Homo sapiens: one gene and its partners. The protein of the gene in region 1 purifies or fractionates together with the protein of each later gene. This does not show direct contact. Each region holds a gene or a part of one and is shown in the gene's direction. Other genes may lie near its edges.

Region 1 (7,751 bases):
TTGCTATGACCCACCCTATAGCCACCCACTGGTGGCCACTCTTATGAGGTATCCACATGGCATCCTCCTCCAATGGGCTAGGGTAAATTGCCTGAACATGAGTAAGGTGTCTGCCTCATGATTTCTGGGAGGTGACTTGGGGCTGTGTGCATCTACCTGATACACCATCAGATGCACATCGTTCTCTTGTAACCTGAGGTGAACATCCTGCCACATGGACATTCCCCAAATGGGCCTGCCCAAAACCTGTTGATTTTCTGCAGTCCATTGATTGATCCACATGGTAAGGCCTCTGTATGTAGCCTAACTCTGTCCAAGTGACTAGTGACCAGGGCTTGTGGGTGATGAGTATCCAAACTGCCCATAGCTTGACCCACTGAATGTTTTGTCCTAATCCCTATTCTATCCATAAGGTATCAAGGTTCATTTGCGCTACAACTGTTGACCATTGGTGCTGGCTGCCTTTGTTAAACCCACCAGTGTAGCAGGTCCTAGCAGTTACGGGCAGGGTCCCCTTATATACAGTGATTGGCGTAGTAGGTGGCCCCACTGTCATGTCAAACCCCTCCAGTTGTTCAAAGTGGATGGGTCTGAGCACCTCCTGTAGTGCTTGACTTAAAAGACTAGTGGATGAGACACCCCTCTGTTGCAGATAGGTGTGCCATTTTTGTAGGGTGTGTGACTGTGCTACCCCAGAGATGGTGTTGGCTACAAGGCCTTCCATTCATCCTTTTATGGTGTAGGCAGTTTTTAGTGTGATAGTCTGCTTCCTGGTGATGGCCTCCACTTCATGCAATGCCCTATACATGGCCAACAGCTGTTGCTCGAGGACTATACAGTAGGTCCTGCACTCTTTCATAATTGAGACCAAAATCCTACAGGTACCATTCACATTGGTTGCTTTTATCACAAACCCCAAATCATCCCCATGGCATCTTTAGTGAATTCTAACACAAAAGGGTGCTGTGGCAGTGGGGACCCTATTGCTTGCACTTGTTTCACCAATATTTTTGTCTTGTCAGATGCCTCTTGCTCCATGTATGTCCAGTCCCATTGTTTATTTTTCTTTATGAGGGTGTATAATGGGCAGAGGGTTTGTGCCAGATGAGGAATCAATATTCTCCAGTAGCCCAGTAAACCTAAGAACACCTGGTGTTAGTTTACCATCTAGGGAACAGGCTGCTGTGCTAGCTTATGTTTCACGTCTTACCCTACCAGGTAACTCTCAGGAACTTGACAGTTATGCCAGGCTCCTTTATCTTTTGGGGGCTGACTTCTCATCACCTGTCTTTTAGGGTATCCAAGACAGTTTGTAGAGCAGTCTCCAGATCTGTAAGAGACTCTGAGGTTAGCATGATATCATTAATATAGTGAAACAGGGAGATTGAGGCAGGCAAACAGGGCCTAGACAGGTTCCATGCAACCATGCTGTGACAGATGGTGGAGCTGTGCAGGTACCCTTGTGTTAGCACCTGGAAAGTCCATTGTTGGCCCTCCTAAGTGAAGACAAACTGACCTTGTGAATCTTCTGCTAAAGGGATACTGGAAAAGCCATTAGACAAGTCAGTCACAGGATGGACATTTCCCAGCTTGAGGACCACTTGTTCTAGTAGTTCAGCAGCTGCATATACAGGGAGCAACACTTTGTTTAGCTCATGGTAGCCTGCCAACATTTTGCAGGTGCCATCTGGTGTCTTCACAGGCTACCCAGGGCTGTTACAGGGGCTCTGGGCCAGCCTATTTGTACCTTATGGAATGCCTAAATTGTTCTGATGATTTCAGAGTGTGCCCCTGGCAGGCAGTATTGTTTTACATTCACTGCCTGCCTGTGCTGGGACAAGTGATTACTTTCTGAATTTAGTCCTTGCTCTTATCCAGCCCACTGAGATCCACCAATGCTTCCCCCATATCATAGATTCCATTTTCCACTAAATGGCAAAAGAACTGCAACCAATGTCTCATATCATAACCCTTTCTAAACTGGAAATGACCCAGACATTCAATGAGTAGCTAAAATAATTTTAAGATTTTAAACTACACAAAAAGTTTTACCTATGTTTATCTCATTTACATTTACTGAATTTATTCATTTTTAGTGGTTTATCTGGATTACTCATGAGAACGAAAGCTCATTAGACTTATTAGACAAAGCTAATAATCATTACGAGTTATTTCCCTGTTAACCATTTTAATGGCTTATAAATATCAGATGTTCGTCTAATCAAGAAACTTAAAGACATAAGCATTTTTACCAATAACTCAGAAAATTCAGCTGTTTTAATTAAACTGACAATATCAAATTAATCTTGCTTATCAAAAAAATCACACAAAGATCATTCTGTTTTGGGTGGATTTATAGTCTTAGAACCTTCATGTCAGAAACCTGACACCTTAAACTATCTAGGAGGGGCAAATATACAACTTATCTAATCAAGAAACTCAGACAAAAATGTATGCTGACACTTTTGAAGACATTTCTACTTTTATTTTATCAAAAATTTTGAAGCCAGCTTATTCACCAAAGATTATTGAATTCACGTGAACCTGAAGAGCATCTGGACTTATTTAATTTATGAGTACGTATTTACTTATAAGCTATTCGGTACCATGCTAGATATAACACATAGCATAATACATGCACATACACATAACACATTTAAACATGTTTATACATATACATGCAAGATCCGATAGCTTTTACCAATAGCTTTTGGAATTCTAGCTTCACAAACTCATTACTATATAAAAGACAGCTGGATCCAGATTATTTTTGATAAAATTGGGACCTGTTCACATGGCTAAACTTTATTTGCCCCAATAGGTAACCCAAGGAAAGCAGTGGATCAATAATTTGGGTAAAGCAGTTTCTATGGCAGTTTGATTTTTAAAAACCTCCTTTATCCATTTTTTTTCAGTTCCAAATGAGTTTAATTCTTTACATTTTAGCTAGAACTGGCTGAACCATATGAGGAAAAAAAAAATCTCAAATTGACCTTGAATTAGTGAGTTTTATCTCAATACCAGTAACTTATTAACAGTAGATTCAAAGCAGGCAGAAAAGGAAAGAGAAATAGAGAGCTTTAGAAGACTCTACTTAACTCTATAGTTGTAGATTAAACATTTGAGCTCTGAATTTTTCTTGTTGTAATTTGCCCGTCAGTTTTAAAATGTACACAAGAAAGGGCCATAATATGTAACCAGCTGGAGGATTAGAAAACCATGCCTTTTAGCTTCTGCTGGAGTTTCTACCCTTTCTCCCTTTCCTGCTCTAATGATTTGTGATTAGCCAGCCTTATTGCAATAACACCACATTTACTATCATTATCATACTTTAATATCTTGGCTTCTTGGCAATAGGTATTCAGTCCTTGCCCATGTTTTCCAAGCATCCCTGTACTCATGCAGTGGCCCACAAAAGTTGTGCAGTTGGGCAACTCCACTCCACATGGACATTGCCGACTGCCCAGGGATTCCCCACCATAGACACTCATTCCTGGCTCGAAGTTTGGTCTCTCTGACCCCATTTGTGATGCCAATTGTAACAAGAAAAATCCAGAATCATATTTTTAAAAAAACCTTTCCCCCAAACTAGGAGGGAGCCAAGAGACCAAAGAATGACTCAGACAAGTCCAGCTTGGCCAGTGGATAAGTTTATTAGGACTTACATATGAGACACTCCTAGATAGCAGAGGACACCTTTAGAGACCTGCCCTGCTTTCCATCTCTAAGCTGCTTTTAAGCTAATTTTCTGGCTCTTTGCCTACTGTGTGTGCATGATGGGACTGTTTTCCTTGATAGGTTCTCAGGTATTCTCTGGGATGTTTGGGTACTCAAGGACACCTGCTCCTCAGCTGGACACCATGGCGTTGACTCACCACTTGGCCATCAAGGATACCTGCTTCTTGGCTGGGCACCGTGTCCTTGACTCACTACTTAGCCATTAAGGTTCAAGCAGTGGTCATACACCCTTAAGTATCCTGGTGGGGGACCTGCAACCCTACACCAGTGACAAGGCCTATTTCTCATTGTCCACGACATGTGACTTTGGGAAAACTACTTAGATTCTCTCTGCTTCAGTTCTGCCACCCACAGACCAGAAATAGATACCAGACCCAGCCCTATCTCTTCTTTCTAGGGTTGTTGTGACATTTGGAAAGAGATTATGGGTTTAAGAAACTTTAAAGGGTTAGAGTGATACAAAGTGTAGTGAATTTTACATCTCAGACTAACCTGATATAAAATCTCTACTGACAAGTCCGTAAAGATCTTAGCTCAGTGCCTAGGATTCAGTAAATGCTTAGAGGATATCAGCTATTAGTGTTACCGCTCATTTTCTTGTTAGACTATGCTCCCAATTATCCAAGGATGACTTTGGTAGTCTAATATTGGTCTAAGTCTTTAAGTATTAGAGGTACTGCCTTCTGAATTGTCACCAGGCCTAATGTCATCTAGACTGTAAACAATTCCCCAACTATCAAGATAACTGTTCTATGAATGCTTTTCATTTCCATATTTTCTTGGCTCAATGCTGTTGCTCAGGACAAAAAACACCAAGTTGGTGATGATGACTGAGTGATGAAACAGTGATCAGAGGGACATATGAAGCTAGTGTAACAAAGATGGGAGGGGCTGGGGAAAGTATAAGTAACTATTAGGAGGTTCAGAGCAAACCTCAGGACACTTACTCCCTGAGCTAAGGTAAAGAATATTGTCCCTCATAGCCCTGGTCTCAGAAACTCTGTGGGGAAGATAAGTCCTGAGCCTAGAGCTGCCATTTCCACAGACAACTGAACTACCTTCAAACAGATGTGTTTTTAGGGGCAGCAGATAGAAGGAGCTGAATCCAGGAGTTTCCTTCCCTGAAATGCCCCAACAGAGGCACAGTCCTCCACCTTCCCTGGAACAGAGGGCTTTCATCTGTCTCTCTGAAGCCATCTCCCTCCCCTGTTTATGCCCAGAGCTGCTTTCCAATCCCATGGAGTGCCTCCGTATCTAACCATAGCCACTGAGTCTACCAGGTGTTCCTGAGAAGACAACTAAGCCAACCGCTCCACACTCTGCTGATTTTCTTCTACATCTCACAGGGGGAAGAGCTGGATCACCATGAAATATGTCTTCTATTTGGGTGTCCTCGCTGGTATGTACTCAAGACCTTGTACTCTGTCCTGTAAGGCACAGTTTAATGGATGGGGTGAGACAGAGGCAGGATTGCGAAGGGTGCAGAAAAAGAGTCAAAAATAGTGTCATCAGCAGAATTAGGAGTCCTGCCTCTCAGACTCCATCCAAAGGCTCTCCGGATAGGCTGAGCCCACTTTTCTAGTGTTAAGCTATAGGGTGGGTTAAGGCACACATGTGCCTTGGAGAAGGCTTAACAGTGAGTGTCCTCCCACCGACACTAATGCAGAAAACAGAGAAGTAGAAACAAAAGATCAAGTACTAGGACCCTACCTTCTGTAGTCCTTGCCCCACATGGGGTTCTTCTGACAGCAGAATTTGCAGATGAGGCATTTCCCACCATTCTCTGACTGCCTAGGTTGTATCACACATTAGCTGTGTGAGATTAGCCAAGTTAATTAACTCTTCTGTGCTTCAATTTCTTCAAAATGGGGGTATGACTACCCATATTATAGAGCTATTGTGAAGATTAAATAAATCTATGTAAAGCACTTAGAACAATGCCTGCTATAGAGAGCTCAATGTCTCTTGCCCTTGTTTACAGTCTACCCTTTTCTCTTTGGGGTTTCTAACTGTGTGATCACACAGAAGGGTGTGGTGAGGTACAGACCCAGTCTTGGGGAAGGTTAACAGGAGTAGCAAGAGAAGCCAAGACAAGAAGAGGGCTTTATTTCTGATACTAGAATCAGCCTTCCTCCCCTTTATTCTCTAGGGTATGTTTTAAATAATTCATTTATAAAAACAATATATGTTCATATTACAAAATTTAGACATTTTTAAAGTAGAAAAATAAGCATCATTCATAATCCCACCTCTTAGTCAACACATGCTAACACTTTGAGTTTACTCTCAGAATCTATATATTTTTTGCATTTAAATGTTTTTATTTATTTGTTTTTAGACAAATAGATTATATCCACAATTTTCTTGTTCTTTTTAACTTAAATAAGCATTAATATTCTTTTGCTGTTTAATATTCTAATTAGTTTAATTTTTATTATATATGATGTTCCACTTTTTGATGTGCTTCAATGTCCAACATTACTATGTCAGATATTTATGTTTCCAGTGTTCAGCTGTTATAGCTAACATGAGCATACTTGTTTGTAATCCTTGTCTATATCTGATTTTTTTCTTTAGAATGGATTCTTGGGGTTGGAATGATTAGGTCACAGGTTATAAACAATTTATGATTCTTGATGCCTGTTTCTAAATTGCTTTTCAAGAAGATGGAATCAATTTACTAGCAGTGATGAGTGTCTCTCATTATACTCTCTTAGATTGAATATTATCAATATTAAACAAAATTATTATAAATATAAGATAAAATGGCATATCGTTTTAATTTACATTTTTATTAGAAAAACATGTCAAATACGTTAACACTTCTTGGCCAACTGATAACTGTTTAAGAATCATCCAGATTCCTTTTCAAGTAAGAGACTGTTACCTTATTTTTATAATATTTATGTATTAAGAATGTTCATTATTTTCTCAGGGACATTTTTCTTTGCTGACTCATCTGTTCAGAAAGAAGACCCTGCTCCCTATTTGGTGTACCTCAAGTCTCACTTCAACCCCTGTGTGGGCGTCCTCATCAAACCCAGCTGGGTGCTGGCCCCAGCTCACTGCTATTTACCGTTGAGTATTTGGGCATCCCCATCCCCAAAACAGCTACTGTTCATTCTAGATCAGTGGTTCTCATATAAGGGTAACTTCTCTACAGGGTACACTTGGCAATGTCTGAAGATATTTTTGGTTGTCACAACCAGGGGGCAGTGCTATTGGCATCTAATGGGGAGAGGCTAGAGCAAAGATGCTGTTTAACATCCTACAATTCACAGCACAGTCCCCACAATAAAGATTTGTCCAGCCCAGAACAGCAATAGTGCCACTGTTGAGGAACCCTGTGTTACATGTTATGCCTCCTCAGACTCTCATAAGTTTTTTTCTTTTTTTTTTTTTACTGGCAGTATGAATGCATTTTATCACTTAAAGATCTAGCAGGTAACTGATGATGCACTCAAATTGGGTCAATTGAGGTGAGTTTTAAGAAGGAACCAATTGCAAAGGTATGGAGACATTAAAGGGACAATATTAAGAATAGTTCCATACCACCAGGGTTTGTATTAAGAAAATGCAGTTACCACCTCTAGGCCTAAAAAGGCAAGAGGAGAAGATAATTTCAAAGGAGGCAAGGAGAGATAGAGAAAAAGCGAGACCTGTGTGAGGAGACAGCCTGATAAGGATTGTAACCCCTAGTCAAGGAGCACAGCCACTCTGTGACAAAACTGCAGGGAGGGACCTGGGAGGATAAGTACTCCAATCTCACTCTTCTTCCTCCAGTTACTTTCTGGTGCTTCCTATTGGCCAATAGAAGGAAGCCAGAGGACAAGAGAGCCCACTGATTAAATCCATATATGTCCCCTTCCAAAGGTGCAGAGCAGAATGGAATAGGACTGTTAGTGCATCAGCTAGGGAACCAAACAGGAGACACCCAGAACTAGGTTATTTATTCTCTGGTCTCCACCAAAATGGACATTGTTCAGTTAGATAGGCGAGAAAATTACATTTCC
Region 2 (7,251 bases), on another chromosome or scaffold:
TGTGTGTTTGAGGGTTTAGCCTGGCCAACCCAGCCATGAGGTCGGACCTGACCCGGGGGTGAGTCCTGAGCTCGGCACCCCTGAGCTGTGTGGCTCACGGCAGCATTCATTGTGTGGCTTGGCCGCACCCCTTTCCCTGCTGGGCTGTTGATGTTTAGACTGGAGCCTCTGTGTTCGCTTCCAGGAACCAACCCGTGTGCGGACAGGAACGGGGGGTGCAGCCACCTGTGCTTCTTCACACCCCACGCAACCCGGTGTGGCTGCCCCATCGGCCTGGAGCTGCTGAGTGACATGAAGACCTGCATCGTGCCTGAGGCCTTCTTGGTCTTCACCAGCAGAGCCGCCATCCACAGGATCTCCCTCGAGACCAATAACAACGACGTGGCCATCCCGCTCACGGGCGTCAAGGAGGCCTCAGCCCTGGACTTTGATGTGTCCAACAACCACATCTACTGGACAGACGTCAGCCTGAAGGTAGCGTGGGCCAGAACGTGCACACAGGCAGCCTTTATGGGAAAACCTTGCCTCTGTTCCTGCCTCAAAGGCTTCAGACACTTTTCTTAAAGCACTATCGTATTTATTGTAACGCAGTTCAAGCTAATCAAATATGAGCAAGCCTATTTAAAAAAAAAAAGATGATTATAATGAGCAAGTCCGGTAGACACACATAAGGGCTTTTGTGAAATGCTTGTGTGAATGTGAAATATTTGTTGTCCGTTGAGCTTGACTTCAGACACCCCACCCACTCCCTTGTCGGTGCCCGTTTGCTCAGCAGACTCTTTCTTCATTTATAGTGCAAATGTAAACATCCAGGACAAATACAGGAAGACTTTTTTTTTTTTTTTTTGAGACAGAGTCTTACTCTGTTGCCCAGGCTGGAGTACCGTAGCGTGAGCTCAGCTCACTGCAACCTCCGCCTCCCAGGTTCAAGCGATTCTTCTGCCTCAGCCTCCTGAGTAGCTGGGACTACAGACATGCACCACCACACCCAGCTAATTTTTTTTATATTTTTAGTAGAGACAGGGTTTCATCATGTTGGCCAGGCTGGTCTTGAACTCCTGACCTCAGGTGATCTGCCCGCCTCGGCCTCCCAAAGTGCTGAGATAACAGGTGTGAGCCACCGTTCCCGGCCTAGGAAAACTTTTTGCCTTCTAAAGAAGAGTTTAGCAAACTAGTCTGTGGGCTGGCCTTCTGATTCTGTAAAGAAAGTTTGATTGGTGGCTGGGTGCGGTGGCTCACACCTGTAATCCCAGCACTTTGGGAGGCCGAGGTGGGCAGATCACCTGAGGTCGGGAGTTCGAGACCAGCCTCACCCACGTGGAGAAACCCCGTCTCTACTAAAAATACAAAAAAAAAAATTAACCGGGCATGGCGGCGCCTGCCTGTAATCGCAGCTACTCAGGAGGCTGAAGCAGGAGAATTGCTTGAACCTGGGAGGCGGAGGTTGTGGTGAGCTGAGATGGCACCATTGCACTCCAGCCTGGGCAACCAAAGTGAAACTCCGTCTCAGAAAAAAAAAAGTTTGATTGGTGTAACCAAAGCGCATCTGTTTATGGATTGTCTGTGGCAGCTTTTGTTCTGCCGAGATGAGTTGTGACAGATCTGTATGGGCTCTAAAGCCTAAAACATGTGCCATCCGCCCCTTTACAGAAAAAGTGTGCTGACCTCTGTTCTAAAGTATTGGACAACTACAATGTTTGCTCATTTATTATTCTATGATTTGTTTTCTGCTTTTTGTTGTTGTTGTTGTTGTTGAGATAGGGTTTCCCTCTGTCACTCAGGCTGGAGTGCAGTGGTGTAATCTCAGCTCACTGCAGCCTCGACCTCCTGGGCTCTAGTGATCCTCTCATCTCAGCCTCCCTAGTAGCTGGGACTACAGGCACACACCACCACTCCTGGCTGATTTTTTTTTTTTTTTTTTTTTTTTTGGGGAGACAGGGTTTCCGCATGTTGCCCAGGCTGGTTTCAAACTCCTAGGCTCAAACACCCACCTCAGCCTCCCAAAGTGCTGGGATTACAGGCGTGAGCCACCATGCCCAGCCTATTCTACTGTTTGTATTACATAGCTTTAAAAGATTTTTTATGACTTTAAGTCACAAGGGTTCTTTGTAGAAAAAAAAATATATATAGGAAAGTATAAAAAGAAAGTAAAAATTGTCCATAACCTCTCCAGCCAGAGACGACCGTTGCTGACACCTCAGCATATTGCCTTTAAGTCTTTTTTCTCTAAGATAGCATTTCTCTTCATCACAGTCATATGCTACGCAGAATTCTGTATCCTGATTTTTTCACTTGACATTACAACAGGTATTTGATGGCGCTGTGACAAACTCTTTGGCACAATCTTTTAAATGTATGAAATACTCCACTGCACAGATGTTTGCTTTTAGGCTTAACTGTTCTTTTATTTTGCGTGTGCTGGTTACAGCCGGGCACAGTGGCTCATGCCTGTAATCACAACACTTTGAGAGGGTGAGGCAGGAGGATCACTTGAGCCCAGAAGTTTGAGACCGGCCTGGGCAACATAGTGAGACCCCATCTCTACAAAAAACTTTTTTAATAAGTCGGGCGTAGTGGTGCATAGCTGTAGTCCCAGCCACCAAGGAGGCTGAGTTGGGAGGATTGCTTGAGCCCCAGGAGGTTGATGCTGCAGTGACCTGAGATTACTCCACTGTACTCCAACCTGAGCGACAGAGCAAGACTTATCTGGGGAAAAAAAAAAAAAAAAAAAAAAATATATATATATATATATATATACACACACATACACGCACACACACATAATATAAAAATATATATTTATAAATATATAATATATAATATAAAAATATATATTTATAAATAAAATTTATAAATTATATTTATAAGTAAATATATAATATATAATATAAAATATATATTATATAATATATAATAAAATATATAATATAAAAATATATATTTATAAATAATATATAATACATACTTATAAGTATATATTTAAAATATATGTAATGTATATTTTTTAATGTATGATATATAATATACATTTATAAATACACATTTATATTATTTTATATAAAATATATATAAAATCTCCAAGTTGCTTTTTCCAAAAAGGTGTCTTGCTGCATTTCAAACATTCATTTAAAAACTTGAATGCTGGTGATCTGGTCCAGAATGTGTTCAGTAGCTGCTGCCAGTGGCCAAGCATCTCGGGAGATGTCTACAAAACACGCTGGTTCTGGCCTGGCGTGGTGGCTCACGCCTGTAATCTCAGCACTTTGGGAGGCTGAGGCAGGTGGATCAACTGAGGTCTGGATTTCGAGACCAGCCTTGCCAGCTTGGTGAAACCCCATCTCTACTAAGAATACAAAAAAATTAGCCAGGCGTGGTGGCATGTGCCTGTAATCCCCACCTACTTGGGAGGCTAAGGCTGGAGAATCGCTTGAACCCAGGGGGCAGAGGTTGCAGTGAGCCGAGATCGCACCATTGCACTCCAGGCTGGGCAAGAAGAGCGAAACTCCGTCTCAAAAAAAAAAAAAAAGATGCTGGTTCCTAAAATGTGGCCCTTTTCCTCCTCACCTGCTGCCAGACCATCAGCCGCGCCTTCATGAACGGGAGCTCGGTGGAGCACGTGGTGGAGTTTGGCCTTGACTACCCCGAGGGCATGGCCGTTGACTGGATGGGCAAGAACCTCTACTGGGCCGACACTGGGACCAACAGAATCGAAGTGGCGCGGCTGGACGGGCAGTTCCGGCAAGTCCTCGTGTGGAGGGACTTGGACAACCCGAGGTCGCTGGCCCTGGATCCCACCAAGGGGTAAGTGTTTGCCTGTCCCGTGCGTCCTTGTGTTCACCTCGTATGAGACAGTGCGGGGGTGCCAACTGGGCAAGGTGGCAGGCTGTCCGTGTGGCCCTCGGTGATTAGAGCTGTACTGACGTCATTAGCCTTGATGGTGGCCAGGACTGGTAGGGCCCTCAGAGGTCATGGAGTTCCTTCGTGGAGCGGGTGCTGAGGCTGTATCAGGCACAGTGCTGGCTGCTTTCACCTGGGCCGTCTCACCGAAGTGTCCATGGAGCCTGCGTAGGGTGGGTATCTGTGTCGATTTTACAGATGCAGAAACAGGCTCAGAGAAACCGAGTGACTTCCCTAAGGTCACATACCCAGTTAGAGCAGAGCTGGGCCAGGAAGTGCTGTCTCAGGCTCCTGACCAGGTCTCCTTGCTTTGCACTCTTGCCAAAACCATGATCCAGAACTGACTTTGAGGTCCCCGGACCTCAGGCTCCTCCGAAATGGCCTCTTGGAGGCTGCTGAGCCACAGCTTAGGACCCACCTCGAGAGGCAAATGTGCTTTGAGCTGCCAGGCGTCCTGGGGGCCCTGCCTTGGGCACGGGGTTCAGACAGGCCCCAGATGTGTGGGGCGTCTTTCTGGACTTGAGTTTTCTTTTCTGTGTGGTGGACACAGTGCTCACCCCTTAAAGCACCTGTGATGTGTGCAGCAGCCCAATCCCTGCCTGTCGCCTGTTCTGCTAGGGAAGGAAGGAAGACTTCAGGATGGCAGGACAACAGAAAGAGGTCCAGGTTTTAGAGCAAGGGCAGGTCAAACTTAGAAAATTCTGGAATGAGGATGTGCATTTCCTCTTCTGGATCTGCTAAAAGAAGAGGGAAGGAGGGGCTGCTGGGGGAGGAGCCCAGAGCCGAGTTTACATCCGGATCCCGCAAGGCCTCCCCTGCCCTGAGGTCTTGTTTTGTGATGTGCTTGTGTCCATCCTGGTTTCTGCCGTGTCCCCAACATCCGGCCAAGCTTAGGTGGATGTTCCAGCACACACTCACCCTGTCTGTGCATCTGTTTTTGTGTCCGTAAGTGGGTATTTACTCGCCTTACGAGTGAGCCACTGTGGGAATTCAGGGAGGTGGCGCAGTGACCACCCCTGGAGGGATATGTGTGTGGCAGGGGTCGAGGGTCTCGCCCTTCCCTGCTTCCTGCGCGTGGCTTTCTCCAGGACGGGGAGGGCTGAGCTGAAGAGGTGGGGACAGTTGCGTCCCCCCGCCACCCACTGTCCTGCGGTGAGAGCAGACTCACTGAGCCTGCCCTTCTCCCTTGTGCCTTCCAGCTACATCTACTGGACCGAGTGGGGCGGCAAGCCGAGGATCGTGCGGGCCTTCATGGACGGGACCAACTGCATGACGCTGGTGGACAAGGTGGGCCGGGCCAACGACCTCACCATTGACTACGCTGACCAGCGCCTCTACTGGACCGACCTGGACACCAACATGATCGAGTCGTCCAACATGCTGGGTGAGGGCCGGGCTGGGGCCTTCTGGTCATGGAGGGCGGGGCAGCCGGGCGTTGGCCACCTCCCAGCCTCGCCGCACATACCCTGTGGCCTGCAAGTTCCCCAACCTGGCAGGAGCTGTGGCCACACCCACGACTGCCCAGCAGCCTCACCCTCTGCTGTGGGAGTTGTCCCCGTCCACCCCTGGGTGCCTTTGCTGCAGTTATGTCGGGAGAGGCTCTGGTGACAGCTGTTTCCTGTGCACCTGCTGGGCACTAGGTCCCAGCTAATCCCTGTGCCAGGACTCTAATTTCACCCTAACACACATGGTGGTTTTCATTGCTGGGGAAGCTGAGGCCTGAGCACATGACTTGCCTTAGGTCACATAGCTGGTGAGTTCAGGATCCCCCAGAGATACCAGGGCCAGCACTCGATCCCCACCCAGCCCTGAACCCCACCATGTGCTGGGATTGTGCTGGGAGTGTCCACACGCCCGGGACCCCAGGGCTGGTGCTCTCATCTCCTTTTTCCAGATCATGAGAATGAGGCTCAGGGAAGTTTGAAAAAAACCTATCCCAAGTCACACAGCAACAGGAGCAGGATTTGAACCCAGAAAAGGGGACCGCACACTCTGTTCTGCTAGAGTAGTTAGCTGTCCTGGGTGATATGGCAGGTGACAGGGGCAACTGTGCTTAACAAAGGAACCCCCATCCCCCCTGCCAAGTTGGGAGACTAGAAGGTCAGGGGCAGAAGCTCTGAAGGGCCAGGTGCAGTGGCTGACACCTCTAATCCCAGCACTTTGTGAGGCCAAGGCGGGCAGATGATTTGAGCCCAGGAGTTCAAGATCAGCCTGGGTAATGTAGTGAGACGCCATCTCTACAAAAAAATTTTTTAAAAATTAGCTGGGCATGGTGGTTCATGCCTGTAGTCCAAGCTACTTGGGAGGCTCAGGTGGGAGGATTGCTTGAGCCCAGGAGGTTGAGGTTGTGGTGAGCTGTGATCATGCCACTGCACTCCAGCCTGGGCAATAGAGTGAGACCGTCTCCAAAAAAAAAAAAAGAAGAAGAAAAAGAAGCTCTGAGGCTCCAAGTCCCCAGGCACCCCTTGGCTTGAGGGCAGACAAGGGAGGAGAGGGTCACCTGGGCAGCCCTGACTTTTGTCCCCTGGCAAAGGGACCTTCAGTGACCTTGGCCCTAGGAGAGCCTCTGAGCACGTCAGCCATGTCGAACCGCTCAGGAAGGGCAGCAAGAATTTGGCTTCTGACCTCTGCCTCTCCTACTCGCCATCTGCACTGGGTGTGGTTGTGCCCATTTTACAGATGAGGAGGCTGGGGCATCGACCAGCTGAATGCCTTGTCCCAGGTACTGCGTAGGCAGAGCTGGCAGTTGAACCCCGTGTCCTGGTTGTCGCTGGGGGTGGGCTGCACCCTGACTTGTGAGGCCAGTAGCAAGGTTTGCACGTGACTTCGTGACCGTCACCCAGCTCTGCAGCACATCCCGTGACCCAGCTCATCCAGGCCGCATGCAAACCTGTTGCCAGGCGAGAAACCAGTCACCGCACAGCTGTGGTTGCCTGAAATGATTAAGCTCATTAATCACCCCGGAGTGAGGACAGACTCAGATGAAAACCAGCAAAAGCCCTGGAAACTCATGTGACCCTGCCAATGAGGGCGGCCATGTGCATTGCAGCCTGGCCGTCACTCCTCGGTACGTGTTTTGGACTTAAACGCTCCGGATGTTTACTGAGTGCTTGATTAATAACATGGAAGGCCTGGTCTCATTGCTGTGGGAGTGAAGGATGCACAGCCAGGCCTGACATGATGAGAACAAGAACCTGGAGTCTCGCTGCCTGGGTGGTAATCCTGGCCCTGCCACTTAGCAACTGTGTGACTGTAGCCAGGTCACTTAATTTTGCTAGATCCTGCCTGCGCTTCAGTGGATCTTGCTGGTTTTCCAAGGTGGCCAAACACTTTAAGGCATTCATGTGGTCGCTA
Region 3 (7,246 bases), on another chromosome or scaffold:
TAGAAATACATTTAAATGTGTGTGGGCCCTTTATTTTCCCATTCTGATGAGAAAGGCATACCAGAGTAGAAAGATCACATATTTTGAAGGTCACAGATCAGGCTCTGGACTAGCATGTTATGTATGGCTATAAAGCTGGTATAATAATAACTATATTATAAAACTGCTGTGAGGATTAACTAAATTACATATGTCAACCACCTAGTAGCATGTTTGAAACATAATTGACACTAGGTAACCAATCTATCATTTCTCAGGTATTTTATTGGTTTTTCAAATGTAATCATCCTTTTAACCTTGATGATTGAATCAAAAAAGAATACAGATATAATATTTCATTGTATATATATTTATTATATGTTATATTTATATGTGGTATATTTTACACTTTTACATATGTACCTATATATTAATAATATATTTTGTGTACACATGTACATATATTTTAATTCATCAAAAGGGACTTCTAATTTTAAAAATTCTATTAAGACAAAGAGAAATGGCCTTAAAATAAGGTAATATTCTAAACTTATATTTATTTGCAATTATGAATTAACCAGAACATGTACACGGTTATGGTTCAAGATAGTTTTAAATATCTGTGTATATAGTGATTACATGAAACTTTGTGTATACCACAATATTATTAAACTAATCTAAATAGTGGAAATAGATTTAATTGAGAAATACAAATAAAACTACCTGTAAAGCATAGTGCTTCAAAAATTTTTTTTAAAGATTTAAAACGTAAAAAGTTTACAGATGGTATCTTTTTTCCTCATCTTTTTTTTTTTTGAGATGGAGTCTCGCTCGCTCAGTAGCCCAGGCTGGAGTGCAGTGGTGCGATCTCGGCTCACTGCAAGCTCTGCCTCCCGGGTTCACACCATTCTCGTGCCTCAGCCTCCAGAGTAGCTGGGACTACAGGCGCACGCTGCCACGCCCCGGCTAGTTTGTTTGTTTGTTTTTTGTATTTTTAGTAGAGATGGGGTTTCACCATGTTGCCCAGGCTGGTCTTGAACTCCTGAGCTCAGACCATCCGCCCACCTCAGCCTCCCAAAGTGCTAGGATTTCAGGCGTGAGCCACCGCGCCCAGGCAAAGATGGTATCTTGATATATACTTATAATCTTGCTCACATCTTTGTAGTGGAGATAATAAAATTACAAAAAGAAGGCTTGCAGTAAATGAAAAATAGTATGTTTTAGTGATAGAATGCAATAAGTAATAATCAAGTTAACCCGTGTATCAGCATGCAGTGTCTGTTAATGCCAGATATGAGGTAAGCAATTTCATGCATATACGTGCATGAAGTGTGTAGGGGTCTTTTTTTATGAAATTGAAACAGAGAAGTTTGATGACTTGTCTAAAGTCACACAGAACTTAGCAACAACCCAGAGAATGTAATCCACTCCTCTGGCTCAGCTCAGTGCACCGTCTATTGTATCCTGCTGTTTTCCTTGTCTATAGGAAAAATAGGCTTGGGAGGCATATAATCTAACTATTCTTCTAGATCGATTTTTACAAAACATGTGGGAAGCAGGCCCAGAGCAATTGAGACGTCTAAGAAGTTCATAAGTATTATTTTCAAGGGACTAATAGCATAGAAGCTTTCTGAGTCATCGTTAGAAATATGTGACACCAGAAGGTAGGTCGCAGGCTGGCATCATAAGGAATAAGAGTTTGGGAATGCTTTCACAAGGCCCAGAGAAGGGATACATGGGAAGAAAGATGTCTATTTAGTCCTTTTTATTTTATTTAAGCCCAATTAGGGTATAAACATTGTGTAAAACCTTTGGATTTTCAGAGAGGAAAGATAATAACAAGTAGTTCAGTGAATGGTTTGAAATGCGACGTGGAAGGTATTGTTCAATATTATGCCAAGATCTCCCAATCTTGATGACAAACTTCCATGCAGGGACTTTGCAATCACCGTAGTCACTTAAAGCAAATGTGGTTGTTAGTGTCGTTCCAAACATTATTTTCAAGATGTGTTCAATACTAGTGTTTCAACTTACATGAAGAACTTTTGCTATAATTCATGTTTATGGTTTTTAGAAACACTCTAGAGAATAATTATGGCCAAATGGGTATATTTAATTTCTTTTCAACTTAATAAAGGGAGGTGTGGTAATAACCCTTTCCACAGAGACCAGCTGGGTGATAGGGTCAGAAGACGAAGATTCTGCTGGTGTAGGCTGGGGGAAACACTTTAAAAAGGAAGTGCATCTGTACTACAAGCAACCACTGCAAAGTAGGGAAAGGGAGAGTAAGGGGCCAGGGAAAAGTAAAAACTTGAGATATAATTACAAAGAGAAAATGTCACTTCACCTGGACTATCATCATAAACAACAGCTCCTGTACAATGTCCTTATAACAAAGGAAAAATGAAGAAAATAGCTCCCTACGTTTCCACCAAAAAGGTGGATGATCTTAACTTGTTGCAGAGGGCATGAGCTGTGAGCGGATAAACAGCCCACTCTGCTGCTCTGTCTCTGGGGGAGAATTGTTGCAGACTGCAGGTTCTCTGACTGCTGACAGATTGCCTAACTCTGGCCGTGGGCCTCCAACTTCGGGAAGCTGTGGGTATTGTATAAAGATGTAAGTTAAACACGTTTCAGAAGCAGCTTGGTACTGATTTGGGGAGTCAAGTATGTTTCAACTACAGACCTCAAAGTAAATATTTACTAATATGGCAAAAGTTCAGCTGTAGGGCAGAACCAGCAGCTAAAAAGCACAAGGAGGGAGATCATGCTTCCCTGGCTGCAGCTTGTTTACCAACCTTCAACTCAGATGTGCATGTTCCTTTGAGTGTGTGTGTGGGGTGGGGAGGAGGTGGAGTGGGAGAGGGGTAGGGGGGTGAGGGGTGGGGTGATGGTGATTGGGGGCTGAGGTTTACCACTTCATCAGTGCTCCATTTTCACTGTAAAGGGTTTGAAGGAACTGATTTTACCAGCCAGGTTCAAATTGTATGCCAAATTTGTATTATAGAGAGACTTGTGAACTCCATGTACAGCCCCATTTGCACAATAACAAGCTGTTACCCTCCAGGTGTTTTGATGTAGTGTGTTGTCCATATTTAGGACTCTGTGTTTAGGATTATTAGAAATGAGGAGAAAATAGGAAGGATAGGAAGCAAAACAGTTAGCTCAGCCAAGCAATTTATATTCTAGTTAGCATTTGGTGGAAGGGGAAAATTGAAGTAGTTCCTACAGAAAGCATATGGAAATCAGGTATCAAAGACCTTTTTTCACTCTAGGCTCAGTCACTGGTCATTCAGCATGTGAGGTTTTATGTTCAGGACCCTGCAGAGGATATCTGGAAGCCTAGCGATGAAGAGAAATGTCTTCTCAAGGAAAGGCCGAATCATGGGCTTTTCCATTACTTACATGGCAACCTGCAGATCAAAAAGTGTTTCAGAGGCTTAATGCACTGGAGTATCCCACTAGCCTTGATTTTATAAATGAGGAAACAGAAGGCCAGGAGTTAGGTGACTCCAGGTTACATAGCTATTCAGTGTCAAAGCCATAGAAGATAGGCAATCATTTGGCACCACACTCTTCCACAATTCCTTTATGAAGGACCAGTTTTCCAGTAGGCAATCCAGGAGAAAGAAAGAGAGAGAGAAAGGGAGAGAGGCAGGGAAAGAGGGAGAGAGTGAGGGAGCGAGGGAGCTAGGGAGTAAGGGAGGGAGGGAGGAAGGAAGGAAGAAAGGAAGGGGGGAAGGGGAAGAGGGGAAGGGGAAGGAAGGAAAGGAAGGAAGGAGGAAAGGGGGAGGGAAAGAAGGGGGAAGGAAAGAAGGAAGCAGGGAAGAGGAAAGAAGGGAAGGGGGAAGGGGAAAGAGGGGAGGGGGGGAGAGAAGGAAGGAAGGAAACAAGGAAGGAAGGACTAATTTGAAAAATAACCAATGTTTTACCTAGGCTTCAGTGAATACCTCCCCCTCCCCACACCAATTTACCGCTTAGATAAATATGTTTAAGATTACTTGCAGGCAGAACTACTTGTGTTACAGCACAATTGTTTCTACTTTCCCCTTGGCTCTTCCCCGCATCCAGAAGCCACTACTGCCTCTAAAATAAGACCACAAGGCAAACACCCAGAGACATTTGAGCCTCCAACTAGGAAACTAGCAGAAGCTCTACCACTGCCCACAGCAAAGATTCAAAATTGGGGTATGTCGAAACCTTCACTGAATTCATATATTTACTTTTCCGGTTCACCCTACGTTACACAGAAGTTGAGATTCCTTCCCTCCGCTGAGAAAAGTGCATTTTCTTTCTCTGTGCCAACACTGCTGGATCCGAGGCTCCAGGAGGAACTGTTGGCAAAGCAGGCGTTTTGGGACCGCGCCTGTGATTGCTCTGTGGCGCCGACTTCCTCTCTCTGTTACATCCATATACAAATGCAAGCTTATTTATTTATTTTAATTCTCCCTCTCTTGCTAGCAACCTGTGGACTTGGCATCTGACTGGTGCGGCAAGGAAGGAGGCTGGTAGGTAAGCGCTACTGTGCCCAACCCCGAGCTGCCTCTTCGCAGTCTTCAGGAGCAAGTCCCCCATTCCAGCTCCTCTGGCAGAGTATGGAGTTACCTGCGTCCGGGGCAGGAAACCATGAATGTGCCCTTCTGCCCTCTTGCCTTTCTGCCACTCTTTGAGTTCCCGTCCTTAATTGAAGAGCCAGTGACTATTGGCTGAAGTTCCCCCAGCGATTTGCATGAACCGAGAGGGAGTGTCTTCTGCCGCCCTCCCTTCAAGAGCGCTCTGACTGCAGCCTCCCAGGGAATGCGCGGCCGAGGGAATGCGCGCAGCTCACAGGCCCTGGGAGTGAGCTGGTGCCCGGCGACCTGGCACCCGCGCCTGGATATGGGGCGTCTACATCGTCCCAGGAGCAGCACCAGCTACAGGAACCTGCCGGTAAGGGTTAGGGTCAAGGAACCCCGCGACCCCGACAAGTTGCAGTATTGTGAAGCAATTCCCACTCGGATGGTTTTTCAAACCTTCTACCTTTATCTAAACTTCACGGGAAGGATGGCGCCGGGAGGGAAAGGGAGTTTGGGATAATGTGTCTTCCTTTTAACAAGGAATAGGGAAGTCCGTGGGTCATGAGAGGAAGTTTCTGAAGCAAGAAATGTATCCAGATAAGGTCGAGGGCATCGGGGGTGCGCTCAATCCGCTTTAGCTACAGGGGTTCGGGATCGTTTCCTGCTGCTGGCGTCTGGCTATGAATGCCTACTGCAATTGACAAATTGTTTTTGCATAGCCATTTTCCGCGTTTACTTTGCTTCCCCCTAAGGGAGGGGGATTAGTGACTGCTTGGTAAGGGGTGGAAATCCAGATCCTTTCGGTTTGATTTCAGATGTGTGCTAAAATAAAAATCACTCTTTCCGACCTAAGACCTAAAGTGTTGGAGGTGGAGGAGGAAGTGTTGGTATTTTTTCTATATTATTATTATTATTGCGATTGTGGTTGTTTTTATGGTTCTCTTAGTAAGGGATGTAACACACTGCGTGTTCCAGCACTCTAATGGCAGAATCACTTCAAGGAGAAATAAATTGCCCACCTTTCAGTGCTCTCTACTACCAGCCCCCTCCCTCCCCATCACCTACCCTGGGTTTCCGTGTCGCTTTGCGCAGTCTCTGAGTCGGAATCCTCTCCACTCCGGTGTGTGTTTCCAGGGATGTTTTACGGTTTGGGATTCTGAATGTTAGCTGGATGAGGGTGGTGATGGGGAAACGAGGGGGGAAGGCGGGGGCGGAGGGGATAGAAAGTGAACAGCAAAATTAAGTTTTGGAGACGATATTGCCCCACAGATCTCTCCTTCGCAGCAGGGTTCTTCTCCGCCCCCGTTCTAATTAGAGGTTTTGCTTCTGGGAACGGGGATGGGGACAGCAAGGATCACAGGGGCGCTAGTTTCTCTCTCGGACCCCTATTTCCCCGTGTGTGTAATGAGCTTTCTTCCCTCCCCCAACTCCAGCATCTGTTTCTGTTTTTCCTCTTCGTGGGACCCTTCAGCTGCCTCGGGAGTTACAGCCGGGCCACCGAGCTTCTGTACAGCCTAAACGAGGGACTACCCGCGGGGGTGCTCATCGGCAGCCTGGCCGAGGACCTGCGGCTGCTGCCCAGGTCTGCAGGGAGGCCGGACCCGCAGTCGCAGCTGCCAGAGCGCACCGGTGCTGAGTGGAACCCCCCTCTCTCCTTCAGCCTGGCCTCCCGGGGACTGAGTGGCCAGTACGTGACCCTAGACAACCGCTCTGGGGAGCTGCACACTTCAGCTCAGGAGATCGACAGGGAGGCCCTGTGTGTTGAAGGGGGTGGAGGGACTGCGTGGAGCGGCAGCGTTTCCATCTCCTCCTCTCCTTCTGACTCTTGTCTTTTGCTGCTGGATGTGCTTGTCCTGCCTCAGGAATACTTCAGGTTTGTGAAGGTGAAGATCGCCATCAGAGACATCAATGACAACGCCCCGCAGTTCCCTGTTTCCCAGATCTCGGTGTGGGTCCCGGAAAATGCACCTGTAAACACCCGACTGGCCATAGAGCATCCTGCTGTGGACCCAGATGTAGGCATTAATGGGGTACAGACCTATCGCTTACTGGACTACCATGGTATGTTCACCCTGGACGTGGAGGAGAATGAGAATGGGGAGCGCACCCCCTACCTAATTGTCATGGGTGCTTTGGACAGGGAAACCCAGGACCAGTATGTGAGCATCATCATAGCTGAGGATGGTGGGTCTCCACCACTTTTGGGCAGTGCCACTCTCACCATTGGCATCAGTGACATTAATGACAATTGCCCTCTCTTCACAGACTCACAAATCAATGTCACTGTGTATGGGAATGCTACAGTGGGCACCCCAATTGCAGCTGTCCAGGCTGTGGATAAAGACTTGGGGACCAATGCTCAAATTACTTATTCTTACAGTCAGAAAGTTCCACAAGCATCTAAGGATTTATTTCACCTGGATGAAAACACTGGAGTCATTAAACTTTTCAGTAAGATTGGAGGAAGTGTTCTGGAGTCCCACAAGCTCACCATCCTTGCTAATGGACCAGGCTGCATCCCTGCTGTAATCACTGCTCTTGTGTCCATTATTAAAGTTATTTTCAGACCCCCTGAAATTGTCCCTCGTTACATAGCAAACGAGATAGATGGTGTGGTTTATCTGAAAGAACTGGAACCCGTTAACACTCCCATTGCGTTTTTCACCATAAGAGATCCAGAAGGTAAATACAAGGTTAACTGCTACCTGGAT
Region 4 (7,251 bases), on another chromosome or scaffold:
TAAAGAACACTCACTGAGTCATCTCTGGGAAAACCTTAAAGCGAATTAGTGGCCAGAACCACATTCTCTACCATCCTCTGGGTTGCCTTCCTGATTGAGGTTATATGAACAAACTGTAGAACATAATCTCTTCTGCTTGGGCTTAGGACATCAGCGAGGACACCAATAAGCCTTCAGGCCAGGGAGGGCCTCAAGGCCTTGAATTGTGGAGAGGGCAGGCCAGCATTGCCTTTGCACCTGTTTTGATAAAGAATTCCTGTCCTCTTTGTGCTGAGTTGTTTAGTCAAAGTGAAGAGAGGATGCAGAACTTGGTGGTGTGATTGGAAGGATGAGCTCTGTAGGGGATTCTAGAAGATGTAGCAATCCTTCTTTCCTGCCCTCACCCCCAGTACTTCATCCATTTTTGAAGTGATCTTGCATTTTACTTCAGGAGAGCTGGTGATGATAAGTGTTCTTCAAGACATGGTGACTTATTAATGCTAGGAGAGAGATGATAGGAAGCTGTATTCTAGAAATGGGGCTTAATTTATAAGATGGAGTTCTTCTTAACTACAAATAGGATTATGCAATTTATAAATTTAATTTAGCAAGTGAAAAGGAGTGACCAAAGAACATCAGGAAAACTACTGGTTATTTAAGACTTTGCGCCTTGTGAACCTAAATTACCTACTTTTCCATGTGCTACTGGAAGGAAGGGGTTTACTCTATTTGAAAGAAGAGGAGAGGGGAAAAATATGTTATTAAGTATATCTGGTGATAACTTTGTAGGCTTGTAGATCTTCATACTGTGTTTTTAATTCTACAACCTTAGTTTTTTCATTTAGTAGTTCCCAGGGGTGTTAACGGGTGATGCTCTGGAGGAGTGCGGACTTGCTCGAGAACCTTCCAAGTTCAAAGCAAGAGAAACTGGGGAATTTTGCCGATGACCTTTGAGGATTGCATTATTTGTTTTCCTGTCAGAGGCTGTCACTAACAGCTGATTCTCCTACTAAAGAAGAAGTAACAGAAAACAACACAGGAGCCTGCTTCGTTGGTAGGAGGTGCTCAAAGGACAGAGCTAAAATCTTTAGTTGGATATTAAGGAGAAGTATATTTCAAATTCAGTGTAAAGGGAGTCTTTACAATAGCCAAGCCTGGCAAAAATGGGAAGGCTATTTTGTGAGGCAGAGGTTTTTTTGTCATTAGAGATATTTAAAGAAAGGTTGGAATGGCCTTTTTTGGGGGTAATATTCTAGGGCAGGGATTAGCAAACTTTTTCTCTTAAGGATCACATAGTAAAATAGTTTAGGCATCTGTCACAACTACTCAACTCTACTGTTGTATTGCAAAGGTAACCAAAGACAATAAGTAAACAAATGAGCATGACTATTAAGTTAGTCTGCTCTGGCTGCCCTAAGAAAATACCATAGGCAGAGTGGCTTAAATAACAGAAGTTTATTTCTCGTAGTTCTGGCAGCTGGGAAGTCCGAGATAAAGGTGTTGGCCCATTTGGTTTCCAGTGAGGGCTCGTTTCCTGGCTTGCAGACAGATGCCTTCTTGCTATGTCCTCACATAGTAGAGAGAGAGACGGATATCTGTTTCTTCCTCTTCTTATAAGGCTGCAATCCTAACAGATTACTGCCCCACCCTTATTACTTCATAAAAAGCTGGAGGTTAGGGCTTCAACATAAGAATTTTAGGGGAAGAGTCCACCATTTAGTCCATAACATCTGTGTTCCAATAAAAGTTTATTTATAAAAACAAGAGGTGGGCTAGATTTGTCCCAAAGACCATAGTTTGACAACCTATTGAATAGAGGAAATTAAACACTGGTGAGCGAGCAGACTAGGTGATCTACCAGCTGATAGATTCAAAACCTGGAGGCTATCGGTAAGTAACCTGCAAAATTAACTGGATCAGAACAAACCTAACTCAGAGCTCATCGACTAGTATTTCTCAGAATAAATCACTTAATAAACAAAAATAGTTCTTAAGTCCAGGATTAATTTTACTTCAATGTGCATCAAATCTATGCTTTTGGCTGATGGGAGATGCGAATGATAAACTGTGCTGGGGTCATCTTTAGAACAGGCCTGGTGTGCTCCTACAGTTGTAAACAGTGCCGGTTATAACGTCTTTTGTCATTGATCAGCATAGAAACCTAGCTTTTTTTTTTTTCTTTTGCAGCAAAGCCATGATTATTAATCTCTTCTTTATTTGTAGGAGAAAGGTCTCTAAGATACTTCTCAGCTAGTAGCCTTCCCCCTCCCCTTCCTTTGGAGAAAAATAGAAGCCACTAAATAGGAACTCCCTCCATACTTTGCCACGAATCATAGAAACTTAAATGCCTCTGCACAGTCACTGCTCTTCTCCTTTCTTTCTGTGGCAGCAAAGAATGAGAACTTTTTTTGCTGACTCTAACCCCCTGTACCTCCAAGCTTTTTTGAGATCTCATGACCAGTTTCTTCTGCGTAACTTTAAAAAACGGTCTGTTTTTCCACCCAGCTCTTGTCCCAAGTCTGTCCCAGTGCTCTATCTTGTTTAAAAATAAAAACTAAACACAAAACCAAACCCGGAGACATTATACAAACAATATAAATTTGACAGGAAATGGAGGACAGAGTCATACTGCGCGTATATAAAACTCTACTTCAAAACCTCTTCGAAACATTCTGACAACCCCAAACTCTGCACCCAAAGTTCATCCCTCATCTTTCTTCTTTCCCTATAATTCTCCTCTTCGGTCTTGTTTTCTCTTCTTTCTGATCAACACTCTTCTTTGCCTCCTCTCTGTTCCTGGCTTTTCCAAGTGGCATTTTCTGGGGCTTTTTGTACACAGAGAGATTTTATATCTTTCTGCTTCTTTCATATTCATCCTTGTATATCACTGTGCTGGGACCTTTAGCAATTCTTATAAAATGCAGATCTGGTCATGCTCTTTGATGAAAAATCTTCAATGACTCCGCATTGATCTGGGGTGAAATTGCCAGACTCCTTACCTGTTCGAAAAGACCCAGTGTCATTTGGACCGTGCTCAACTTTTCAATTATGCTGACCCCCTCATCAATTTTGTTATTGCCCAAGTTCCTTGTTTTCCTTGTTATGGCATTGCTGTCTCACTCATGGGCCTTCACATGCTTCTCTGTGCCCAGAATCCTTATCATCTTCCTCTGTACTTAGCTGAGGCATCCTTCTGGTCTCAGCTAGATACCACTTTCTAATGAAAGCATTCCTTGGCCAGGCATGGTGGCTCATGCCTATAATCCCAGTGCTTTGGGAGGTAGAGGCTGGAGGATTGCTTGAGGCCAGGAGTTCAAGACTAACCTGGACAACAAAGTGAGACCTCATCTTTACAAAAAGTAAAAAGAAAATTAGCTAGGTGAGTGGCACATGCCTATAGTGCCAGCTGCTCAGAAGGCTGAGGCAGGAGGATTGCTTGAGCCCAGGAGTTCAAAGCTACAGTGAGCTATGATTGTGTGACTCCCGGGGCAACAGAGTGAGAACCTGTGTCAAAAAAAAAAAAAAAAAGGAAAAAGAAAAGAGAGAAAGCCTTCCTTCACCCTCTCTGTATTAGCTGTGCTTTCTGATGTCCTGTTTTTATTTCTCAGGACAACCTTTTATTTCTCCTGTCCTGATATTATTATGCTTTTGAATTTGTCTATAGACTTTTAGTTCATGAGAGTAGGGGCCATGTTTATCCTGGTCACCATTTAATTCCCATCACTTAGCAGAGTATATGGCACATAGAAAGTCCTCAGGAAATATTTATTGGATAAATTATCTACATTTAAAGTATAACTTTATTTTTTCACATTTGATTAATTTTAATACATATAAATTTATACCTTATTACATAACTTTAAAACCCATTTACATTATAAAGTAAAATACTATTACTTTTTACTTTATAAAGTATTTTTACTTAATTAAAAAGGAACAAATGTGTATTATTCTTGGAAAATTTATTTTATCTTTCCATTTGTCATTTTCTGTTTATGCTCCATAAAGTTTTTATGACTTACAATCATAACATTTTTAGAGTGGAAGTCTATGTAAAATATACCATTTTTGTTATTCTTCTTCAGAATGAAGGATTAAACTGAAGATTAAAAGAAAATTTCCACGAAGTTTTGATTATGACAGCATTGTGGAGCACATACTGGGTTTGAAGCTGCTTTAGTCTTACCTTCAATGAATCCTGAGAAATGCAGTGATAATGCTTAGCATATTATATATATATATATATATTTCTTTTTCTTTTTATATTTTAGATAAGAGTGCCCAGGAGTGGAATCTGGAAATAGAGTCTACATTTGATGTTGTCAGCTCAAAGCCAGTTGGTGGTCAAGTGATCGTAGCCATCCCTAAGTTGCAAACACAACAGACATACAGCATTGAACTTCAACCTGGGAAAAGGATTGTTGAGCTATTTGTGAACATTAGCAAGGTAAATGATGGTACTTCCTGAGAAGCACTGGATGAAAAGCAATACCTGTGCTAAAGAAATGATTAGAAAGGAGGGACTAAGTATGAAAGAAAATTCTACTTTCTCTGCTTATATTTGTCATTTTCTTCTCTATTTTAGTCTCTCATATATTTTCTGTGAGTATGAGCTAAAGAATGATTTTCCCAAACTTTAAGATTAAGAAAATAGAGAATATATTATTAATTTGGCAATTCTTTCTCTCATTTTATTTTTATCATTGTATTTTAATTTTCTGTAGTATTTGTAGTATCCTAAAGCCAAAATACATTCTATGGATTATATTTAAATAGCAGTGGTTATTTTTGATACTTGTCAATTATTTTGATTATTGATACTTATTCTACATGCACAATTTTAATTCTAAACTCATGATCTTTCATATATCAAGGTAGAACGGATTATTTTTATCTTTTCTTTTTCTTTTTTCTATTCCTCTAATTGATAATTGTGTACTGAAAAAGGTGGAGCAAAATAACATTCAGTAGCTGTTGAGATAAAGTAAGAACTCAAAATGATTTTTAGTTTTTGGCTTGAAAGAAGAGTCAACTTCAGAGTCCCATTTTAAGTGTTAAGAATGTGGAATAAATGTAAGCTCGGTGTTAGGGATAGGGAGAGTTGTTTTTCTGAACACTCATGTTATTCTGTTCTTTCCTTTTGCTTTTGATGTATTGATCCATGCTAGATTCCCAGCATGCTGATTTTTAAATATTATCAATGAATTGGTCTGATTGGGCATAATATAGGTGGGGAGACTTACATTGTTTTAGAACCTAGAGTTTTGTACTTGACTATTTGAGAAATTGATGTAATGCTTTGAGCCTTTTTTGCTGAAAATATGACATATTAGAGTGACTTTTAAATTTTCTTAAAAGAATATTACTGTAGAAACTTGGTGGCCTCATGGACATGGAAACCAGACTGGGTACAACATGACTGTTCTTTTTGAACTGGATGGAGGCTTAAATATTGAAAAATCAGCTAAGGTAAGTAAGTAATTTAAAATATTTTGTGAAATAATTTTATTTCTTTTAAAAATAGTAATACAGATCTTCATGGGAAAAGAAGAAACCGTCAAAACTCTTGTGTCCCCACCCATCAGAGATCATCTTTAGTAACAGCATTCAAAAGCTTCTCTCTCTGTGTGTGTATATATACATACATATATATACACACACACATATATATATATATATATATTTTTTTTTTTTGAGACAGAGTCTTGCTCTGTCACTCAGGCTGGAGTGCAATGGTGCAATCTTGGCTCACTGCAACCTCCACCTCCTGGGTTCAAGCAATTCTCCTGCCTCAGCCTCCCAAGTAGATGGGATTACAGGCACCCGCCACCACGCCCAGCTAACTTTTGTATTTTTAGTAGAGATGGGGTTTCACCATGTTGACCAGGCAGGTCTTGAATTCCTGATATCAAGTGATCTACTGCCTTGGCCTCCCAGAGTGCTGGGATTACGGGCGTGAGCCACTGCGCCCGGCCTTATATTTTTAAATGGATCATACTTTAGATATTATTTTGTCAATAAGTAGTCTCCTGCTATGATTTAAAATTGTACCTTATATCAAAATAATACATGTGTAATTTTAAAACTCAAATATTACTAGTAAGTTTATATGAAAAATAAGACCTCTTGCCCATCACTTCCTATTCTTACTTCCTACTCCCCAGAACCAACCATTTTTAACTTTTATTTATTTCCTCTGACATTCTTCTTCATTTTTCTGAATAAGGTGCTTCTACTGGTGTTTTCTGATTTTTCAGTTTTACCCATTTTAGGATATAGCACTAGGAATTGGAAAGAACTGCACTTTGTTATTTATTAGCTATAGGCTACTTACTTAATCTCAAAATATGTAAAATAGGGACAATAAGAACGAGATGGCTTGGATCTGGCTTATAAGAGTCATGGCATATAGTTAGTAGAAATGGTATTAACCCTCTTCAAAGATCTCCTCCTCTCCCAGACACCAGCTTCGGTGTTTACAGTTGGCTGGTGTCACCTCTTACATTTGGTATTTCCTCTCCTGTGGGCCAGACAACATGCTAAGGATGGAGATATGTCCTTCAGGAGTGCATTTTCTGTTTTTCTTTTGTTCAATCATGCTGTGTATTTTCTGAGACACTGTGAATGTGTGTGTGTGTGTGTGTGTGTGTGTGTGTAAGGGGGGAGGGGAGAGAGAGAAAGAGTGTGTATGTGTGTGTGAGAGGGGAAGAGAGTGTATGTGTGTTTGTGTGTGTGTGTGTGTGTGTGCGCGCGCACGCACACATGCACAGAGTTATGTACAGGGAGAACATCCTGGACCCGTCTTAAGGGCCAAAGCATTCACTCTTGTCGTACCCCTCTTGGCTGAGAGGATGTGTGCTGTCTCACACAGTGAGTTTGTTGTGTGTTGTTTTCATGAAAATGTAAAAAATAATGAGTCATTCCAACTTACTACAGAGAAAGAAGAGGAACTTCTGTCTTTTTCTAAGGGAAATAATTCTTTTACATTCAGGCTAATATGACTGTATTATTGTTCATTACACATAAAGATGCCAGCCTTTGAATCGAGCAGCAACAGGAGTTTGCTTTAAGGAGGATGTTTAACTGCCCCACACCTTGAGTTAATGCATGTGTGTGAAATGTGCTCTTTGGCTGTGGCTGCCGTAGAGTTGCTATTTTTTGAGGCTGATTCATTCAGTAAATACTTAGGGCACACCTACTGTGTTTTGGCTATTTTGCTAGGTGCTGGTGATAGAGCTGTGACTAAGACACTGTTTCTGTTTCTCTCTGAGA

Evidence for each region.
Region 2: the proteins of PRSS37 (region 1) and LRP5 purify together in Homo sapiens (affinity purification with mass spectrometry; 2 studies listed by BioGRID and IntAct, with this or other methods). This does not show direct contact.
Region 3: the proteins of PRSS37 (region 1) and PCDH20 purify together in Homo sapiens (affinity purification with mass spectrometry; 2 studies listed by BioGRID and IntAct, with this or other methods). This does not show direct contact.
Region 4: the proteins of PRSS37 (region 1) and MANBA purify together in Homo sapiens (affinity purification with mass spectrometry; 2 studies listed by BioGRID and IntAct, with this or other methods). This does not show direct contact.

What each region holds. Positions count from the first base shown.
Region 1 is NC_000007.14:141,838,402-141,846,152, reverse strand, and holds the start of PRSS37 (probable inactive serine protease 37 isoform 1 precursor), read left to right. Parts: upstream 1-4,667; 5' UTR 4,668-5,103; coding exon 5,104-5,137; intron 5,138-5,803; exon of another isoform or gene 5,804-5,888; intron 5,889-6,673; coding exon 6,674-6,815; intron 6,816-7,148; exon of another isoform or gene 7,149-7,217; intron 7,218-7,751. UniProt on the Homo sapiens protein: Plays a role in male fertility. May have a role in sperm migration or binding to zona-intact eggs. Involved in the activation of the proacrosin/acrosin system.
Region 2 is NC_000011.10:68,406,340-68,413,590, forward strand, and holds part of LRP5 (low-density lipoprotein receptor-related protein 5 isoform 1 precursor), read left to right. Parts: intron 1-184; coding exon 185-474; intron 475-3,574; coding exon 3,575-3,801; intron 3,802-5,096; coding exon 5,097-5,281; intron 5,282-6,740; exon of another isoform or gene 6,741-6,921; coding exon of another isoform or gene 6,922-6,964; intron 6,965-7,251. UniProt on the Homo sapiens protein: Acts as a coreceptor with members of the frizzled family of seven-transmembrane spanning receptors to transduce signal by Wnt proteins.
Region 3 is NC_000013.11:61,412,689-61,419,934, reverse strand, and holds the start of PCDH20 (protocadherin-20 precursor), read left to right. Parts: upstream 1-4,085; 5' UTR 4,086-4,776; coding exon 4,777-4,908; intron 4,909-5,968; coding exon 5,969-7,246. UniProt on the Homo sapiens protein: Potential calcium-dependent cell-adhesion protein.
Region 4 is NC_000004.12:102,687,771-102,695,021, reverse strand, and holds part of MANBA (beta-mannosidase precursor), read left to right. Parts: intron 1-4,250; coding exon 4,251-4,426; intron 4,427-5,337; coding exon 5,338-5,448; intron 5,449-7,251.